3 linked regions of the Homo sapiens genome follow. The protein of the gene in region 1 purifies or fractionates together with the protein of each later gene. This does not show direct contact. Each region holds a gene or a part of one and is shown on either strand. Other genes may lie near its edges. The genes, in order: CLEC12B, MFGE8 and TMEM192.

What was found.
Region 2: the proteins of CLEC12B (region 1) and MFGE8 purify together in Homo sapiens (co-immunoprecipitation; 2 studies listed by BioGRID and IntAct, with this or other methods). This does not show direct contact.
Region 3: the proteins of CLEC12B (region 1) and TMEM192 purify together in Homo sapiens (co-immunoprecipitation; 2 studies listed by BioGRID and IntAct, with this or other methods). This does not show direct contact.

Annotation. Positions count from the first base shown.
Region 1 is NC_000012.12:10,013,164-10,019,870, forward strand, and holds the end of CLEC12B (C-type lectin domain family 12 member B), read left to right. Parts: intron 1-641; exon of another isoform or gene 642-1,359; coding exon 1,360-1,578; intron 1,579-1,722; exon of another isoform or gene 1,723-2,088; coding exon 2,089-2,243; exon of another isoform or gene 2,244-2,448; coding exon 2,449-2,564; coding exon of another isoform or gene 2,565-2,583; exon of another isoform or gene 2,584-4,786; intron 4,787-5,167; coding exon 5,168-5,318; 3' UTR 5,319-5,633; downstream 5,634-6,707. UniProt on the Homo sapiens protein: Inhibitory receptor postulated to negatively regulate immune and non-immune functions. Upon phosphorylation, recruits SH2 domain-containing PTPN6 and PTPN11 phosphatases to its ITIM motif and antagonizes activation signals.
Region 2 is NC_000015.10:88,897,575-88,903,808, reverse strand, and holds the end of MFGE8 (lactadherin isoform a preproprotein), read left to right. Parts: exon of another isoform or gene 1-1,626; intron 1,627-2,073; coding exon 2,074-2,258; intron 2,259-3,050; exon of another isoform or gene 3,051-3,152; intron 3,153-3,997; coding exon 3,998-4,153; intron 4,154-4,276; coding exon 4,277-4,414; 3' UTR 4,415-5,126; downstream 5,127-6,234.
Region 3 is NC_000004.12:165,081,477-165,089,513, reverse strand, and holds part of TMEM192 (transmembrane protein 192), read left to right. Parts: intron 1-911; coding exon 912-1,046; intron 1,047-3,825; coding exon 3,826-3,928; intron 3,929-8,037.

The sequences.
Region 1 (6,707 bases):
GCCTAGACACACATTCACTTATCATTCCAATGCTGAGAAATAAAGTCAAGAAATATGTATTGAAGGAAGTGCTTGCTATTTTTATTTACCTGAAAGACTTAACACTAGACTAGGTTCAGTCTGCTTACATGAAACTTCTCTAGTGGAGAGAAATCTTCCAAGTAGCAGCAGCAGCCTGATTTCTATGAATGAGAAAGACATATAAACAAAGAGGAAGAGTGGCCTGATACACCTTACCAAGTAAGAGAGTTGAACCATCTCCACATGACAATGGAAGCTCCACTCTCAAGCACCACAGCCACAAAGGAACATTCTATTGATTCTGACCCATCCTCGGGAAGTTGGGGATGAACATGGTAGGGAGTTCTTGAGTAATGAGAAAAACATCCTGAGAATACAAACTTTATAGGGTTGTTAAGTATATGGTATACAGAGTAGTGAATTGGCATGGTATTCGCTTACAGGGAACTCACAGTCAAGAAAGTTAATTTGCTGAATGATACTAACATCTCCTCTGCTACATTCATTTCTTTTTAATGATTTAATGGATAATTTTTTAGGATTTAATGGTTAATTAGGATTTGGACATATCTTTGCCAACATAAAAAGAGACTAATGATGTACCTTGCTCTTTTGAAAAGGAATATGATGTTCAAGCAGCAGTAACAGATATTCTGGAGCCAATCAGTATGAGGATTAGCAGCCGATCTTCTACAATAATGTATATTTAAAAATTAAGTGAAAATGCAATAACGTACGTCCATTGGTTCGATATAGAAGGGTGACATTTCTTTTCTAAAATTTAGTGCTTTTGGTGCAGTGGTTCTTAAATTTGTTGTGCTGATGAAGCACCTTAAATGCTTATGAAAAGGGCATATTTCATGGACCCATGACGAGAAATGGTCTGATATGCCATTAAGATCTGCTTTTTCTTTTCTTTTGGTAAACAAGCATCTCAGGTCATCTGCAGAGTTTGAGATATCCATTGTCCCAAAGAATGCTGTTTTCATTAAAACAACAATTACATCATCTATCTCCAAATAAAATAAAACAAAAATAAAACAATTTCATGAAAATGAGTGGCAGAATGACTGGCCCTTCCTTAGATGTGATGTCAGAAATATATCATTATTAAATCATTATTTTAATATAGTGCAATAATAAAAATGTAAATAAAATTATAAAGAACTATAAATAATTTGGAATAGAAAGGCATCTGGTTTGTTTCTTTCATGATACCTCAAATACTAAGAGCTACTAATAAATCTTGAACAATTAAGAAATGTTTCTGTCACGAGAATTATCTACAGTTATAAGAATAGAAGAATATATGAACTTGTCTCCTGTCATGTCTTGGAGTTTTGCAGATATCTAATGACATTAACTCAGATTCAGAGAAATTGAGTCAACTTCAGAAAACCATCCAACAGCAGCAGGATAACTTATCCCAGCAACTGGGCAACTCCAACAACTTGTCCATGGAGGAGGAATTTCTCAAGTCACAGATCTCCAGTGTACTGAAGAGGCAGGAACAAATGGCCATCAAACTGTGCCAAGAGCTAATCATTCATACTTCAGGTAATCAGACTTAGTCCTGCTGACCAGTCAGATGGCATATGTTATCCTGGTCTAAGTTGATCACATGTACCACCTAAGAGTATTGAGAGAGTTATGTCATCCAGTGAACCTTAATGATGTTGCACTAAATTTACACACAGCAAGGAAATATACAAATTCATTTAATATTTTTGAAACCACAGGCAAATTTGGGAAGTATCTTGGAATGATATCAATCTGGATACTTCAACCCCTCATTTTATTAACTATTTCTAGGTGATCATGTTGCTCTGAAAGCTTAAAGGCATAGCTGGTAATTCTGAGGTCAGAAGACTAAGCCATGAAAAGAGAATCCCTGTTGCCCCAACCCATAACCAGGGGTCACTTTTTTTTCAGAGGCTTCTAAAGCAGTATGCTTTCAGGGTGCAGGCTCTCAGTCCCTATTGTTCAATTACATGATTTTGTTTCAAAGCCTTCTCCAGTCACTCTAGAGTCTTCAGTTTATATTATTGGGTATAATTTCCTTTTCAGACCACAGATGTAATCCATGTCCTAAGATGTGGCAATGGTACCAAAATAGTTGCTACTATTTTACAACAAATGAGGAGAAAACCTGGGCTAACAGTAGAAAGGACTGCATAGACAAGAACTCCACCCTAGTGAAGATAGACAGTTTGGAAGAAAAGGTAGGATTGAGTCTCATTCTCTAGTTATAGACATTATCCATACAATGAGAGAGAAATAAATAAAACATCTGATTCACATGATGGAAATTCAGTGCATCTTGAATTAGAATTAATACATGAATTTAATGAATGTCCTCATCTATCTTAACTCTGCAAACTGGAATGTGGCGCTCACGTAAAACTTTTTCTCTGTTTTCTCTCTTAGGATTTTCTTATGTCACAGCCATTACTCATGTTTTCGTTCTTTTGGCTGGGATTATCATGGGACTCCTCTGGCAGAAGTTGGTTCTGGGAAGATGGCTCTGTTCCCTCTCCATCCTTGTACGTCTCTAACTATTGAGGGTAAACACAAGCTTTCCATGGAATCCTGGGAAAATTAATAATGATTGTGAGAATTATAAATACAGACATAAAAAGAGGAGTACAACATACTGAGAAAAGAGCTCCAGTAACAAATATTGAAAGGAGGTATAGTTCATTTCATCTCTGTGACAAATTTATAGCAAGGCACTGAATTTTATCTTTTGGTAGAAATGTGTTTATTTAACACACACACACACCTAATACTACATTCAAAGTATTTTATAAATACTAACCCTTGAAGAAAGCAGTTATATTCCCATTTTATAGGTAGAAATATTATAATAGAGAGATTAAGTAACTTGCCTGAGGTCACTCAGCTCATAAATTGCACTTTAGGGATTGTGCACTCAGTCACTCAGCTATTCTGACTCTCCAGCACCTACAATCCAAAAGGGTGCTGCTGGTCATAAGAACACATATCAACACATTTATTTATACTAAATAACTGTCAACCATTTTCTAACAAAAAGTAAGACTGAATTGACTGATTAGTTCAACAATTAGTGTCATGTTGAGGACTTGCCAATTACAATATACGGCAAGTGTCTTTTATGAATTAAAATGAACTAAACCTTCCACTTCAGGGTTTGGATGAAACTATTTAAAGGACAAATAGAATATATAACACTTGGAAAATTTCAATTTTTTTAACTATTTAAAGTTATGAAAAAATAGACGTCAACAAAAATGTGTAAGGGGATATTAGGTTTGCTAAATTCTTTCACAGACTATAAAACAAAAAATTTTGAGGAACACCTCTCATCATAACTACATTTAAATGAAACAACTGTATTAATATTTTAAATATAATAGTATTTTTCTATTAGATAAAATTTAAGATCTTTGGCATCTTAATGGATTTTTAAACTTTTTATTGATACATAAGAGATGTATATGTTTTGGGGTATATGTGATAATTTGATACATTCAGATAGTGTGTAAAGATCAAATAAGTGGAATTGGGATATCGATCACTTTAAATATTTATCTTTTCTTTATGCTAGGAGCATTCAAATTATTATTTTCTCATTATTGTGAAATGTACAGTAGATTATTGTTAATTGTATTCACCCTAATAATCTATGAAACACTAGGTCTTACTTCTTCTATCTAACAGAATATTTGTATTCATAATGGCTTTTTATCTACCTTCCTCCCCCAACAAATCATTATCCACCCCCCTCCCTCCTGTTTCACTCTTTAAAGCATGTTGTCAACGTTTTCTTAAACTGAATAATAATCACTCATCTTCTGTCAAAGATGCCATGCTTCAGCTGTGACTCAGCAGTTCCTTAAATCACAAACAATGGTAGGTCTATTATTTTCTCCCTGGATACACTTTATCTTCATCCATTTCCCAATGTTTTGTCATGGCTATTTCTACTCAAACACTAATCCCCCATTCTCTAATCACCATTATTAATCATATCAAGTCAATTAGTTTGGTTTCACACTAATAATAATGACAAAAAGCACATGCAGAGTAATACACAAACAAAAAAAGTGACAGTTACTTTTTTGTGACAAGAGCAATATTGGGTATGAACTGATTAATATTAATCTGAGGTGTTGCTACTAGACTGAGGGTTTCCAGGAGTAGTACTATGACATCATGTAAACACATTCAGTTTTCATGTTGGAATCTAAGATGTGTCCCTTCTCCCAAAGGGATTTTAATCATTCTTGGCCTCTCTACTCACTCTTAATCAAAGTGTGGAGGAGGTGGCCCCCACAGCAGGGTTTGGAACCTACAGACCCTGGCCCCTGAGACATGCAGCTGTCAGACAAGCCAGCATGTCAAACACAGGTTAGAGAGACTGAGCTTCCAGATTGCATAGCCATTTCCTTGACTACTGAGTAAAGGCCAAGGCTAAGATTTAGTAAGCCTAGCCCTGAAGCAAGCAAAGAATATGGCAGTGTAATGCAGGTCATTTAGAAAAAAACAATGTTGGGCACAAAGAAAATTTAGATCTGACAAGTATAATTTTCTAAAGACATTATTTCAGGATTAACATCAATTTCTTAGCAGAGGAAATGAATACTATTGTCAGAACCATATCTATATAGTCAATCATTTCCTCTTTTAACGTCTGTCTTGTTCTCTTTTTACCCACCACATATGTATAACTATGTGAAAAATTATATTTGTGCATAATAAAATGTGATAACTTTTTACAACAGAATGTGATTTTATTTTTATGTTTTTCTTCATAAGGTCCCAAAGAACTTCAAGTACTTCTAATATAAGCTGAACTGATTAGATTTCATTAATGGAATTACATATTTATGAAGGAAATACAAATTCTCAGTCCAGGATTTAAGTATTTCTCTTAAAGAATTCTACCTGGGATTATGATTAACTTAAAATAAAGAACCCAGATGTGCCAGCTCTGGGCAGATTTTGTGCCAGCTTTAGGCAGCTTCAGATTTTGAAGCTTTGTGGAGGCAGAAGTCTCTCCATATTCAGATACATGACATTGGCTGTAAGAGCAACTGAGGGCACTAAATAGTGATCACGTTTCAAATACAGAATTTATAATTAATTTTAAATTAATTTTCAGATTTAGTACTAAAGAACTTGACCAGATCAATGGATCCAAAGGATGTGCTTATTTTCAAAAAGGAAATATTTATATTTCTCGCTGTAGTGCTGAAATTTTTTGGATTTGCGAGAAGACAGCTGCCCCAGTGAAGACTGAGGATTTGGATTAGTATGCTTCTTCCAAATTCTCCAAGAAGTAAGAGACTTGTGAGTAAGCTCATATGAGGAAAGAGGAAACTACGGTACCAGAGCCAAACCAGCTTTTAAAATGACTGTGTATTTACATTATCAGACAAATGAACTTGTTTAACAGAACATTCTCCAGTTCCTTGTCTGACGTCTTCTGATTTGATGTTATTATTCGGTCTTAAAATTATACCTGGGGACAAAGGGGAATAGCCATACTATGGCCCTATGATTGTCTCAGAATCATTTCACTGAATTTCTTTGCTTTCTCAAATAAAGACTCCTTTCTTTCATTATTATTATACTGTCACGTGTGCACTAGGGTGATATTTAAATATTTAAAAACTAGGGTGATATTTAAATATTTAAAAACACAGGCCACAGCACTAGAACAAGGTCCAAGAGATGCCTGTTGTGATAGTTGCTGGGTCATGTGGAGGTCTGGGGGATCCCAGGCTAAGGGTCCTGGTAGCTGGGGCTGCAGCACTGTATCAACTGATTTGGAAATATTTTATTTTAGCAAATGTTTGTACCACTGTGAACCAGCTAAGTGTCGCCCTGCACTTGCAAAATAGCTTTTCTTCTCCAACAACCCTATGAAAATAAGCGTTCTTATTAATCTTTAAAATTTAGATAATTTATAATCTAGGCATAATAATTTAATATTTACTTTTTTTTGAGACACTGTCTCACTCTGTTGCCTAGGCTGTAGTATTGTGATGTGATTGGCTCACTGCAGCCTCAATCTCCTGGGCTCAATCGATCCCTCCCACCTCAGCCTCCCGAATACCTGGGACCACAGGCATGCAACACCATGCTCAGCTAATTTTTGTATTTTTTTGTAGAGACGAGGTTTCACCATGTTGCCCAGGCTGGTCTCAAACACCTAGGCTCAAGCTATCTGCCAGCCTCAGCCTCCCAAAATCCTGGGATTACAGGTGTGAGCCACTGCCCCTGGCCAATATTTATGTGTTTGTCATTTATTTAAATTAGTAATATTGATGTTATTGATTTTGTAATCTGGGTATTATTATAAAAATATATTCTCTTACAATTGATATTTTGTTTCCCTCAGAAAAGTCCTAATAAACTGTTTGAAGACATCAAAATAGAAGAACCATTATCTTTAATTATTTAGACCTTTCCTGAATCACAGTTTGTCAGTGTTCCTGCACACTAGATGCTAAATATTGTAAATCTAGGGTTCAAGATTTTTCCTGGAACAAAATTGCTGATTTCAGAGTACTGGTAAAGGATGTAGTTTTCCATTTATCTTCACATAGTTCCATAGCTATATATAGGAAGAAAATAATGATAAATTAGCCTTTGATACTGATTTTGCTAGATCAGAAATCTAGAATTTACTGGAAAAT
Region 2 (6,234 bases), on another chromosome or scaffold:
TCTTAGAAATGCAGACTGAGGCCGGGTGCGGTGGCTCACGCCTGTAATCCCAGCACTTTGGGAGGCCGAGGCGAGCGGATCACCTGAGGTCAGGAGATCAAGACCAGCTTGGCCAACATGGCGAAGCCCCGTCTCTACTAAAAAAATACAAAAATTAGCCAGGCGTGGTGGCAGGTGCCTGTAATCCCAGCTACTAGGGAGGCTGAGGCAGGATAATTGCCTGAACCCGGTCAGAAGGTGGAGGTTGCAGTGAGCCGAGATCATGCCACTGCACTCCAGCCTGGGTGACAGAGCGAGACTGTGTCTCAAACAAACAAACAAAAAAACAAAAAAAAAGAAATACAGACTGAAAGCCCCAGCCTAGACTTGCTGAAACATAAGCTTTTTTTTTTTATATCAAGATCCCCAGGTGATCTGTGAGAATTACTCCCCTAGTATCTCATTTTATAGATGGGGAGACTGAGAGCCAGAGAGAGGAAGGGACTTCCTAGAGTGCTGGAGCTGACAGTCCTGTCCCTGCCCTGGTGCCCCTTCCAACTGCATTTTACCAGAAAGGCTGTCTGACTTCCTGGGGAGGCTGAGAGTGAGGAGGGTATGAACCACTAGAAGCAGATGATCTGTAGAGGGGTCTGCGTTGAGCACATTGTGCAGAATTGGTGTCCTCTGCAAAGCTGCCCAGGTTTTAGCCTGCCTCAGGCCTCTCCTCTTCTGGGGCCAAGGGACAACCAGCTCTCAGCCCGGGAGCCTCTCTTTGAGGGGGAAGGTGGTGGTTCCCTGGTGCATCACCATCAGGAGATGATGGTACCATCAGCAGGCATTGTCAACACACCCTGGAGGCAAATGTCTTGAGTGGTGAGAGTACAGGTGGGCAGTGATATAACTTAGCTGGCTCCCAGTACTCTTGAGTGGTGAGAGTATTGGAGGGCAGTGATATAACTTAGCTGGCTCCCAGAGGGCAGGGGGCTCTCCAGTCCCACCGTCCACTCCTGCCTCCCTCAATTCCCCAGAGGGATAGACACTTGTGGAGTGAGGATTCTTCCAGGTGGGAGACACCCCCATCATTCTCTTGGGAGTTGTATCTCTTGCCCATCCCCAACTGTTCTATCCATATGCAGGTGCAGATACAAGTGCAAGGCAGCCCGGCACATTCCTGAGTGTTTGGGGCAGGGCTGAGTGAAACAAAGGCCAGCTTCCCGGGCCAGCCCTCACAGGCCTGTGTGACAGCATCCCCAGAACATTTGAGTGTGCGAAGGCCCTCTGGGAGACACTAAGTCAGGGGGCTTCTGGGGAATGGAAATAGAGATGTTCCTGTGCCCCAGGAGTTGTCTGATTTCTCTAACTGCCAGCTGCTGGAGGGCAGGGATGTTGTCCTGTTCATCACTGGGTCGTCACTAGGCAGGCCTTCATCATCTAGCTGGGATGTGTAGCTGGTAGAGGTGACGTCATAGTGTGACATTAGGAGTTTGTATGTGACTTGAGCATGATGCTTAATGTCTTTCAGTTTTCTCATCTATAGAATGGGCTTACTAATTTCTACTTCATTTAGTGTTTTTTTTTCTTTTTTTTTTTGGTGGCAGGTTAAATGACTGAAGTAAGCACTGAATAAACAATGTGGTTGTTATTAAAGTAGATAGTGACTGTGCCATGGGACGGATGGGAGGCCGAGGCGATGGGGGCAGTGCTGTGAGTCCAGAAGAGGAAGAAATCCTGCCCAAGTGAAGTAGTCAGGGCAGACTTCTTGGAGGAGGTGTCTCCAAAGTCAGGCATTGAAGGAGGGCAGGAGGTGGTGGAGCAGGGGCCTTCCCTGGTGCAGAGGAGAAGGGTGGTGAGTGGGAGGTCTTGGGTGATCTGTGAGGAGCTGAGCCCGGCTGGTTGAGGTGAGGAGGTGGTGGGGTCGGCAGTGAGAAGGTCGCACAGTTGGCCCTGCAAGGCGGATGGAGCTGCTTTCTGTTGCCCAAGAGCATGACAGGGGCTGGTCAGGATCCACAGAGTTCTTTCTGCTTCATCGCCTTGTGCTCCTGCCCCTGGGAGCTGTGGATCCCAGATCCAGATGACAGCCCACCTTGCTGGCAGGATGCGCCAATCCCCTGGGCCTGAAGAATAACAGCATCCCTGACAAGCAGATCACGGCCTCCAGCAGCTACAAGACCTGGGGCTTGCATCTCTTCAGCTGGAACCCCTCCTATGCACGGCTGGACAAGCAGGGCAACTTCAACGCCTGGGTTGCGGGGAGCTACGGTAACGATCAGTGGCTGCAGGTGGGTCAGCCTTCTTGGGATATGGGGCTGGGGTTGGGTGGGATGAGGTGGGACTGCCAGATCTTTGACCTCTCTCCAGCCCAGGCTTCTCTTCTGCTCCCCAAAAGAGTTCTGGAAAAGCCTTGTTTTTCTTCGGCTTTTCTTTCTTCTTCCCACCTGTACTCCCTTCTCTTGATCCTGCTTCCACCAAGGTGGAGAAAGGGTGTGTGTGTGTATGTGTGTGTGTGTGTGAATGTGTGTGTGTGAGTGTGTGAATGTGTGTGAATGTGAGTGTGTGTGAATGCGTGCGTGTGAATGCGTGCGTGTGAATGTGTGTGTGAATGTGTATGTGTGAATGTGTGTGTGTGAATGTGTGAATGTGTGTGTGAATGTGTGAGAATGTGTGTGAATGTGTGTGTGAGAATGTGTGTGTGAATGTGTGTGTGTGAATGTGTATGTGTGAATGTGTATTTGTGAATGTGTGTGAATGTGTATGTGAATGTGTATGTGAATGTGTATGTGTGAATGTGTGTGAATATGTGTGTGTGAGAATGTGTGTGTGTGTGTGAATGTGTGTGTGTGAATGTGTGTGTGTGAATGTGTGTGTATGTGTGTACACAAGGGGAGAGCCATTCCATGGGCTGCCACAGGATTGACAAGGCTCAGCCTATGGACAGACAGCAGGGCGGAGGCGGAAGAGGGAGACATGACCCAGGCATCTTGGGACCTCTCCCTTGAGCACAGCATACATATTCTCTGACTCAGTGTCTAAGAAGCCACCATGTGACAGCCCTTGTCTGTCATTGAAACTAGGAAACAAAAGAGAGCCATGGAAAACCGGAGCTTGTTTTATAGATGAGGAAGCCGAGAGCTGGCAGGACGATGATCTGCCTAGTACCCACCTGCTGGCTGGCAGTGAGTTGGGTTTACACCTGGATGTTGGGGAACTGTGTGTCCAGGTGCAGCTGGCAGGTTCTCCAGGGAGGTCAGGGACCGGGGACAGGAGGTCTGTCTCAGGGCCCCATGGAGCACACTGCGGAGCTGGGTTCCCTGAGGAGCTGCCTGCCTGTGGACACCCTCAGGACCAGTGTCAGACTGTGGGCGGCGCCGCAGGGAGCCTCTAGAGCAGTTCATGCCCCTCCAGGCTGTGGCCTCTCCTGTCCTTCTTCCCATCACAGTGCAGTGCAGGTCTCAGGCAGGGGTGGTTGGCGTGGAGTTGGCCAGGGCCCAGACCCTATGAGCTTTATAGCAGTGAGGTACCGAACACCATGTGTGGCAAAGTAGGTGGTATTATTTATGCCCCCTCACCGCTTTTTTTTTTTTTTTTTCTGAGACAGAGCCTTGCTCTGTCACCCAGGCTGGAGTGCAGTGGCGCCATCTCGGCTCACCGCAACCTCCGCCTCCCAGGTTCAAGCGGTTCTTCTGACTCAGCCTCCCTAGTAGCTGGGATTACAGGCAGCCACCATCATGCCCAGCTAATTTTTTGTATTTTTAGTAGAGACGGGGTTTCACCATGTTGGTCAGGCTGGTCTCGAACTCCTGACCTCAGGTGATCCACCTGCCTCAAGTCTCTCCCAAAGTGTTGGGATTATAGGCATGAGACACCATGTCCGGCCTTATGCCCATTTTATAGCCAAAGAAACTGAGGCTCACCCAAGTAGTTTTTTTCAAAACTAGAATTCATGCCTCAGTGTGTCTGCCTCTTTTCACCTTACTGGAGATGGTCCAAGCAGAGAAAATGTGGTTGGTTTCTTCTGTAGGTGGACCTGGGCTCCTCGAAGGAGGTGACAGGCATCATCACCCAGGGGGCCCGTAACTTTGGCTCTGTCCAGTTTGTGGCATCCTACAAGGTTGCCTACAGTAATGACAGTGCGAACTGGACTGAGTACCAGGACCCCAGGACTGGCAGCAGTAAGGTGGGTGTCTGTCCAGCTGCCCACCCTTTGCCATTCCTTCATTACTTCCCTGGGAGTCTGGCCTGGGGCTCTGAGGGGAGGGGGGCTGGCTCGGGGTCCTCCTGACACCCGCTCTGCCTCTAGATCTTCCCTGGCAACTGGGACAACCACTCCCACAAGAAGAACTTGTTTGAGACGCCCATCCTGGCTCGCTATGTGCGCATCCTGCCTGTAGCCTGGCACAACCGCATCGCCCTGCGCCTGGAGCTGCTGGGCTGTTAGTGGCCACCTGCCACCCCCAGGTCTTCCTGCTTTCCATGGGCCCGCTGCCTCTTGGCTTCTCAGCCCCTTTAAATCACCATAGGGCTGGGGACTGGGGAAGGGGAGGGTGTTCAGAGGCAGCACCACCACACAGTCACCCCTCCCTCCCTCTTTCCCACCCTCCACCTCTCACGGGCCCTGCCCCAGCCCCTAAGCCCCGTCCCCTAACCCCCAGTCCTCACTGTCCTGTTTTCTTAGGCACTGAGGGATCTGAGTAGGTCTGGGATGGACAGGAAAGGGCAAAGTAGGGCGTGTGGTTTCCCTGCCCCTGTCCGGACCGCCGATCCCAGGTGCGTGTGTCTCTGTCTCTCCTAGCCCCTCTCTCACACATCACATTCCCATGGTGGCCTCAAGAAAGGCCCGGAAGCGCCAGGCTGGAGATAACAGCCTCTTGCCCGTCGGCCCTGCGTCGGCCCTGGGGTACCATGTGGCCACAACTGCTGTGGCCCCCTGTCCCCAAGACACTTCCCCTTGTCTCCCTGGTTGCCTCTCTTGCCCCTTGTCCTGAAGCCCAGCGACACAGAAGGGGGTGGGGCGGGTCTATGGGGAGAAAGGGAGCGAGGTCAGAGGAGGGCATGGGTTGGCAGGGTGGGCGTTTGGGGCCCTCTATGCTGGCTTTTCACCCCAGAGGACACAGGCAGCTTCCAAAATATATTTATCTTCTTCACGGGAACTCTTGGTGTGGTTCGTTATTGTTTCATGGGAATGGGATTTAAATTGCGCTGGTTTCCCCATCCCCCACCTGTGGTCCTCCCTGAGCCCCAGCTTGCTTGCTTGCTTTTTTTTTTTTTTTTTTGAGATGGAGTCTTGCTCTGTCGCCAGGCTGGAGTGCAGTGGTGTGATCTCGGCTCATTGCAATCTCTGCCTCCTGGGTTCAAGCATTTCTCCTACCTCAGCCTCCCAAGTAGCTGGGACTATAGGTGCACACCACCATGCCCAGCTAAGTTTTATATTTTTAGTAGAGACAGGGTTTCACCGTGTTGGCCAGGATTGTCTCAATCTCTTGACCTTGTGATCCACCTGCCTCGGCCTCCCAAAGTGCTGGGATTACAGGCGTGAGCCACCGTGCCCAGCCCCATCTTTCTTTATGTCACCTGCCTGACTACACATAGCTTCATAGCAGGAGGCTGGAGACTTTGGTCCAGGGCGGCCTGAAGGAAGTCAGGACTTCCAGGTCCTCAAAACCTGACTTCCCCTCTTCCCTCTGCTTTCTACCTCCATGCCGTCTGGCCCTGAGCCCTACAACTGCTGCCTGGTCAGGGGCCCAGCGAGTGCTGGCAGACACTGTCTCCTGAATGCTTTTGCTCCCTTCCTGCCAGGAAGACTGGCTGGGGCAGCTGGTTTTCCCCTTCAGCAGTTTCCATTCTCTCTGCAACTGGAGTGGTGGGCTGGAGAAACTATAAGAAACTCAGTGAACCTGGATGCCTTCCGAACTGCGGGAGTTCCTGGGGTGGGTGCAGCGTGGGACTGGAGGAGGGGGCCGGGGCTCTGCCAAGTGGGCATGAGGCCTCCTGCCTGAACACACTGGTTCCTGGTAGGCCACTGGCGTGTGTGCTCCAGGGATACCCTCTCTGCCCTCCCCTGTGTGGGGGTCATCAAGAAGTGGGGGTGGGCCTTGCGGGCCAGTGTCTTGGTGATCTGGAAGGGTGACTTGCAGGCAGAGGCTTGGCTAGCTTGGGAAGGGGTGTAGGAAAAACCACCCTCTTTGTCAAGGTGAATTTTTCCAAACTTTGGGAGCCGGCTGTGTTCTGCAGGCAGGGGGTGCATCTGAGCAGCAGGAG
Region 3 (8,037 bases), on another chromosome or scaffold:
GTCTCTACTAAAAATATTTTAAAAATTAGCCGGGCGTGGTGGCGGGCGCCTGTAGTCCCAGCTACTCGGGAGGCTGAGGCAGGAGAATGGCGTGAAACCTGGGAGGTGGAGCTTGCAGTGAGCCGAGATAGCGCCACTGCACTCCAGCCTGGGCGACAGAGTGAGACTCCGTCTCCAAAAAAAAAGAGAACCCTTTCTCCCTTTACCCTTTTCCCTTGAAGACCCTTATTTCAGAGGGGTCCTGCCCTATATGGCAGGAGGGTTGGGGGTGAGGAGTCTACACAGAGAGGCCGAGAAGAACCTGAATAGACAGGTCTTGCTGGGTTTGCCCCTTCAGTCTATTCCCAGTAGATCATACTTTGTCCACTCACATTTCTACATGGCTGTCCATTCTTCATCAAACCTAAGCATAAGAATAGTTTTCTCTGGGTCTTTCATTTCTTTTCCTTTTTTTTTTTTTTTTTTTTTTTTTTGCAGTAGGGTCTTGCTCTGTTGCCCAGGCTGGAGTGCAGTGACACGACCTCAGCTCACTGCAGCCTCAACCTCCCAGGCTCAAGCAATCCTCCCACCTTAGCCTCCCAGGTAGCTGGAACTACAGATGTGTGCCACCATGCCTGGCTAATTTTTTATATTTTTTTATAGAGATGGGGTCTTGCTATGTTGCCTAAGCTGGTCTCGACCACCTGGGCTCAAGCAATCCTCTTGTCTTGACTTCCCAAAATGCTGACATTACAGGTGTGAGCCACTGCACCTGGCCTGGGTCTTCATTTCTGAAGGCTCTGATCACTCAGGAAATTACAAGTGTTTTAGGAGCTCTGTGTAAGGAACCAGACAAAGACCAACTATCTATTGGACAAAGACCATATATGTATTTCTCATCACATGCTGTGTTTTATGTTTCTCCTCCTCAGGCAACACAGTGCTTCTCCTCATACTGTGCATGCAGCACTCCTTCCCAGAGCCTGGCAGATTGTATCTTGACCTCATTCTGGCCATCTTGGCACTGGAACTCATCTGTTCCCTGATATGTCTCCTCATTTACACAGGTGAGAATTACAACGAGCCTGTTCTTATAGGAACTTCGAACTGCTTCCTTTCCTCCCAGTTTAAAGTATAGCCCATTAGCGACAAGGAAGTTCTCTGTGTATCTGAGTGGTGACCACATGCAGACTTCTTTAATTTCAAACCAACAGGAAGGTACAGCCACCACCAGTGAGACCCCATTCTTTTAAGATTGTGTCATTAATAAATTTTTGTTAATGCAAGTGAAACTTTTCCATTAAAACAAGACACAAACTTTTTGGGCTGGGAATGGTGGCTCAAGCCTGTAATCCCAGCTCTTTGGGAGGATGAGGCAGAAGGATCACTTGAGCTCTGGAATTCAAGACCAGCCTGGACAACATGATGAAACTCCATCTCTACAAAAAATACAAAAAATTAGCCAGGTATGGTGGTGCACAAATGTGGTCCCAGCCCCTCAGGAGGCTGACGTGGGAGGATCACTAGAGCCTGGGAGACAGAGGTTGCAGTGAGCCAAGATCACATGCCTGCACTCCAGCCTGGGTGACAGAGTAAGACCCTGTCTCCTAAAACAACAACAACAAAAACATCCACAAACTTTTGCTTCTCTGAAGGCAGCTGAAATGTCAGCTTGCATTTAAAATTAAAAATTAAGAAATAGGCCAGGCACAGTGGCTCATGTCTGTAATCCTAGCACTTTAGGAGGCTAGCACTTTAATAGAGATGGGGTTTCGTCATGTTGGCCAGGATGGTCTCTAACTCCTGACCTCAGGTGATCCGCCCGCCTTGGCCTCCCAAAGTGCTGGGATTACAGGCATGACCCACCGCACCCAGCCCCAAATTGTATATATTCATCTGCTTAATGAAGTTTTCATCCACATGTCCCACAGGCACCAACAAGATCAGAAGTGAACAGAACATAATTTTCTTCAAAATTTCCCTCCATCCTAACCGTCCTCTTCTAGCTCAGTTAACAATACCAGCCTGCATCCACTTGATAAATCAGAATCCTAGAAACGTAGGAGTCATCTACCTTCTTCCTTCTACCTCACTCCCCAAGAACTGGATAGGATTGGTGATCAGTCAGTCATCAGTCTTATTCAGTCTACCTGTCTTTCAGCTCTGTCTCTTTTCTTTGGTCCCTGCCACTGCCTTGGTTAGGTACTCATCATCTCTTGCATGGCTACATCCAGGAGACACATAACAGGTCTCTTTCCCTCTGTCCACTGATTCATATTTCTTATTCCTGCCAACATGATCTTGTTTATACTTAACTCTGATTGTTAACAGCTTCCCTGCCCAGAGTTTTCTAATAGCTGAAGGAAAAAAAATCTAACGTTTTCATGTGGCATAAAAGGCATTTTCTTTATTTTTTTTTTGAGTTGGAGTTTCACTCTCGTCACCCAGGCTGGAGTGCAATGGCGTGATCTCAGCTTACTGCAACCTCCGCCTCCTGGGTTTAAGCGATTCTCCTGCCTCAGCCTCCTGAGTGGCTGGGATTATAGGCGCCTACCACCACACCCAGCTAATTTTTGTGTTTTTAGTAAAGACAGCATCTCATCATGTTCGCCAGGCTGGTCTCAAACTCCGGATGTCAGGTCATCTATCCGCCTCGGCCTCCCAAAGTGCTGGGATTACAGACATGAGCCACCATGCCCAGCCTGAAAGGTTCTCCTTGAATGGCCTCTACCTAGCCTGCTCTTCAGGGATGATGGTGAGATCCTTTCAAAGACTGCCAGTTGCTCTGAGGATAAAATCTAAATGTCTTAGGCCGGGCCTGGTGACTCACGCCTGTAATCCCAGCACTTTGGGAGGCCTCAGCGGGTGGATCACTTGAGGCCAGGAGTTTGAGAACAGCCTGGCCAACATGGTGAAACACCGTCTCTACTGAAAATACAAAAAAAATTAGCTGGGTGTGGTGGTGCACGCCTGTAATCCCAGTCGGGAGGCTGAGGTGGGAGAATTGCTTGAACCTAGGAGGCAGAGACAGAGGTTGCAGTGAGCCAAGGTTGTGCCACTGCACTCCAGCCTGAGCGACAGAGCAAGACTCCGTCTCAAAAAAAAAAAAAAAAAAAGTGTAAATGCCTTGCATGACACACCAGCCACTCCTGATGCATTCTCTGCCTATCTTCCCAACCCACCCCTTGTCCATACACCCTCACACCCATACATACGTGTAGCTTCTCAAGACCATAGCATTTGTTCAGACTCCTCCTGCACCTGAAGCACCCTTCTTTATTCTCCTAGTCTGTGTGATTAATTCCTGGGCTCAAACTCTATCCTCTTTTCCCCTCTCTGATACCTCCTGTTGAGTTAGGCACTGCTTTCCAGGCCAAAAAGCAGCTTGACAACTCCTTGTGCAAGCCTCTTGCACAAGCTTCTATTGAAGGTACTTTCCATACTGTCTTAGAATGTAGGATTATTATCTGTATTTTCCCCTGGACCAGAGGAAGTCATGATTTCTGAATTAGATGGCTGGCTGGTTGCTCAACTTCTCTGGGCTTCACTGCGGGGTAATAGGAGCATCCACTTCATGCAGGTGTTTATGAGAACTGAATGAGGGCATCCATGTAAAACATTTAAACTGTGCCTCATGTGTTCTAAGTGCACAATAAATGTCAGCTATTATTGCTATTTCAATACTAATGTAATCCCTATATTCCCAGGGCTTAGAACAGGCCTGGCACATAGTAGAATTTGAAATACTCAAGGACGTTAATAAGAACGGCAAATTAGCATAATTTGAAAAAATGAAACTAGACTTGTCTTTCAGAATTCGATCTAATAATGACTTTATTATTTTAGTGAAAATCCGGAGATTTAATAAAGCTAAACCAGAGCCTGATATACTTGAAGAAGAAAAAATCTATGCTTACCCCAGCAATATTACCTCGGAGACTGGATTCAGGTAAGATTTAGGTGAGAATAAAATAATTGAGTTTTTTCCCCTAGAAAGCTAGAAACCATTCTGATGCTTGGAATTTATGATTGTGTATTTGTACTTTTACATTTGTTTGATTTGTTTATTTCCTTTCAGCTGTGGTGAAATCAAGTCTAAATCAGGATGTGTAAATGTATTAAATAGGCCATATATTTGATGCAAAAAATTAACCACTTAGCCAACCTATTTAACCTCTCAAGAGCTTTTGACATCATTAACTGGTTACTCCCTCCTTGAAGCACCTTTTTTTATAGGTGTCTTTTTTTTTTTTTTTTTTTTGAGATGGAGTTTTGCTCTTGTTGCCCAGGCTGGAGTGCAGTGGCATGATCTTGGCTCACCGTAGTCTCCACCTCCCAGTTTCAAGCGATTCTCCTGCCTCAGCCTCCCAGTAGCTGGGATTACAGGCATGCACCACCACGCTTGGCTAATTTTGTATTTTTAGTAGAGATGGGGTTTCTCCATGTTGGTCAGGCTGGTCTTGAACTCCTGACCTCAGGTGATCCGCCCGCCTCAGCCTCCCAAAGTGCTGGGATCACAGGCGTGAGCCACCTCGCCCGGCCTGTTATTTTCTTTTTAAGGGATAGAGTCTCTCTGTATTGCCCAGGCTGGCCTCAAACTCCTGGGCTCAAGCAATCCTCCCATTTCAGCCTCCCAAACAGCCAGCCCGGTCTGCCCACCCTTGTTTCTATCCAGTCTCTCCCTAAGTGACTTCCATGGTAATTAAAATATCATTCATATCTGTTGGAGATCTTGGGGCTAAAGTAGATGTAAAAAACTATACATGCCCAGCTAATTTTTGTATTTTTAGTAGCGACAAGGTTTCACCATGTTGGCCAGGCTGGTCTCAAACTCCTGACCTCAAGTGATCCATCCACCTCGGCCTCCCAAAGTGCTGGGATTACAGGCATGATTACACCACTCCTGGCCATGTCTGTGGTTCTTCTCATCCTGCTTTTGGATCTATATAATCTGGGACACGAGTTATTCCTTAACATCATCTGAAGTGGATAGCAACAGACATAAGAATATAGTCAGTATATATAAAGAAAGTGTGGGCCAGGTGGGGCAGCTCACGCCTGTAATCCCAGCACTTTCGGAGGCCGAGGTGGGTAGATCACCTGAGGTCAGGAGTTCAAGACCAGCCTGGCCAACATGATGAAACCCCATCTCTACTAAAAATACAAAAACTAGCCAGGCACAGTGGCGCATACCTGTAATCCCAGCTACTTGAGAGGCTGAGGCAGGAGAATCGCTTGAACCCGGGAGACAGAGGTTGCAGTGAGCCAAGATGGCGCCACTGTACTCCAGCCTGGGCAACAGAGCGAGACTCCATCTCAAACAAAAAAAAGAAAGTGTATTACTTAGGGGCTTAAGAAATGGACTCAGTGCCATTACTGATGTACTAGTTAAAAAAAGAAAAAGAAAAAAACATGACTGGGCGCGGTGGCTCATGCCTGTAATCCTAGCACTTTTAAGAGGCTGAGGTGGGCAGATCACGAGGTCAGGAGTTTGAGTCCAGCCTGACCAATATGGTGAAACCCCATCTCTACTAAATATACAAAAATTAGCTGGGCAAAGTGATGCACACCTGTAGTCCCAGCTACTCAGGAGGCTGAGGCAGGAGAATCGCTTGAACCTGTGAGGCGGAGGTTGCAGTGAGCTAAGATTGCGCCACTGCACTCCAGCCTGGATAACAGAGCAAGACTCTGTCTCGAAACAAAACAACAACAACAAAAAACTTTATAGATAAAGGAAAGAGATACTTTTAAAAACAGTTGTTGAAATAAATATAGTTTAATGTATTGGCTTTTAGTAAGGCCAATTTTTGAATTAGTGTCATTTTTAAATTAGCTTTTATAAACTGAACTGTTGTTAGGCACAGGTGTGAAGTGACAACACAGGTGTGACAGTGTTGAATCAGGATGCACATTGCTTTTTATTATAGTGTGGAATATAAATACTTAATGAATAAAAAGAAAAAAGAACAAAAAACAAAAACAAACACTTAATGAGCAGCAAGTCCAAGGTTGTTCTTCTTGGGATCGTTATCTCTGTCCCACAGTGTAAACTGATGATATCTTGATAGTTCTAGAATCCTTTACCCTCGGTTTCTTGAAGCCTGGATTATACTGTCTATAATTCTCAATACGTACAGAACTATGAAAACGGAGGTGTCTTTAGTGAAATAGATTCTTTCCCCTAGAAAATACAACTTTTTTTTGTCACTTTTCACTTACCATGATCTGCCTTCTTATTTTGTTTACTCTTTTTCTTCATTCTAACCTAAATAGAGGAATAACTTTAGTATCAATTGTTGATTATCTCTTTGTTGACTTTTGGGCTTATTAAATTCAGAGACTGTTCTTCCTGACCTTGACCCTTTTCATATTTCATCTTGTTCCCCCTGAGCACTGAAGAGTTTACCTAATATTGCTCTCTTATGACTTAATGGAAAGCTTTTTAAAATGTATTCCCTTCACCTCATGGGGTTAACTTTGGGGCAATGAAATTCAGTTTATGCCGGACGTGGTGGCTCACGCCTGTAATCCCAGTACTTTGTGAGGCCGAGGCGGGTGCATCACCTGAGGTCAGAAGTTCAGACCAGCCTGGTCAGCATGGTGAAACCCTGTCTCTACTGAGTATACAAAAATTAGCCGGGCGTGGTGGTGCGCACCTGTAATCCCAGCTACTCAGGAGGCTGAGGCAGGAGAATCGCTTGGACCCGGGAGGCAGAGGTTGCAGTGAGCCGAGATCACGCCATTGCACTCCAGCCTGGGCAACGAGAGTGAAACTTTGTTCCAAAAAAAAAAAAATTCAGTTTATATTCCTCTTTTACTTTTAAAATTTGTATGGAATGCTTCTTTGAAAATGCATCTCAGTTTGAAAATTTGAATCAACTTCCAATGAAAGAAGGTAAATCTAGCCACACGTTTATCCCTTCACCCTCCCCAGATCCTTCCAAAAGGATAGTGAAGGATTAAAAAAGACCAACCTACCCACACTAGCAGAAAAACTGGAGGAGAAAGGGACCATCGATGGTTGAGTGATTTCTGAAAATGTGTGGGCTACAGAATACAGATGAAGGAGCGGTAGACAATACCACAGGGCAGAGAGGCTACATTTAGAGGACACGGGGAGAAATAAAGCCAAGGAGGCAGCCACTCTTTTTGTGTAGCCCCAGAGAGACTTGGAACTCAGAAATGAACAGGATGCCCAGGAGTGGAACATAGGGCAGGGAACAGGGATGTTAATTGAAAGTCTACTGTATATAGACGATGTCCAGGTCTGGGTGTGGTGGCTTAGGCCTGTATTCCCAGCACGTTGGGAGGCTGAGGCGGGTGGATCACTTGAGGTCAGGAGTTTAAGACCAGCCTGGTCAACGTGCTGAAACCCCATCTCTACTAAAAATATAAAAATTAGCTGGGTGTGGTGGTGCACGCCTGTAGTCCCAGCTACTCGGGAGGGTGAGGCAGGAGAATCGCGGGAACCCTGGAGGCGGAGGTTGCTGTGAGCCGAGATCATGCCACTGCACTCCAGCCTGGGCAATGGAGTGAGACTCTGTGTTGAAAAAAAAAAAAAAAAAGAAGATGGTCAGTCATGGTGGCTCACGCCTGTAATCCCAGCACTATAGGAGGCCAAGGAGGGTGGATCACTTGAGGTCAGCAGTTTGAGACCAGCCTGGTCAACATGGTGAAACCCCGTCTCTACTAAAAATACAAAAATTAGCCGGGCATGGTGGTACATGCCTGTAATCCTAGAGGCTGAGGCAGAAGAATAGCTTGAACCGGGGAGGCAGAGGTTGCAGTGAGCCGAGATTGCGCCATTGCACTCCAGCCTGGGCCACAGAGCAAGACTCGGTCTCTGCCGGACACGGTGGCTCACGCCTGTAATCCCAGCACTTTGGGAGGCCGAGGCGGGTGGATCATGGGGTCAGGATATCGAGACCATCCTGGCTAATATGGTGAAACCCCATCTCTACTGAAAAATACAAAAAAAAAAAAATTAGCCGGGCGTGATGATGGGCGCTTATAGTCCCAGCTACTCAGGAGGCTGAGGCAGGAGAATGGCATGAACCC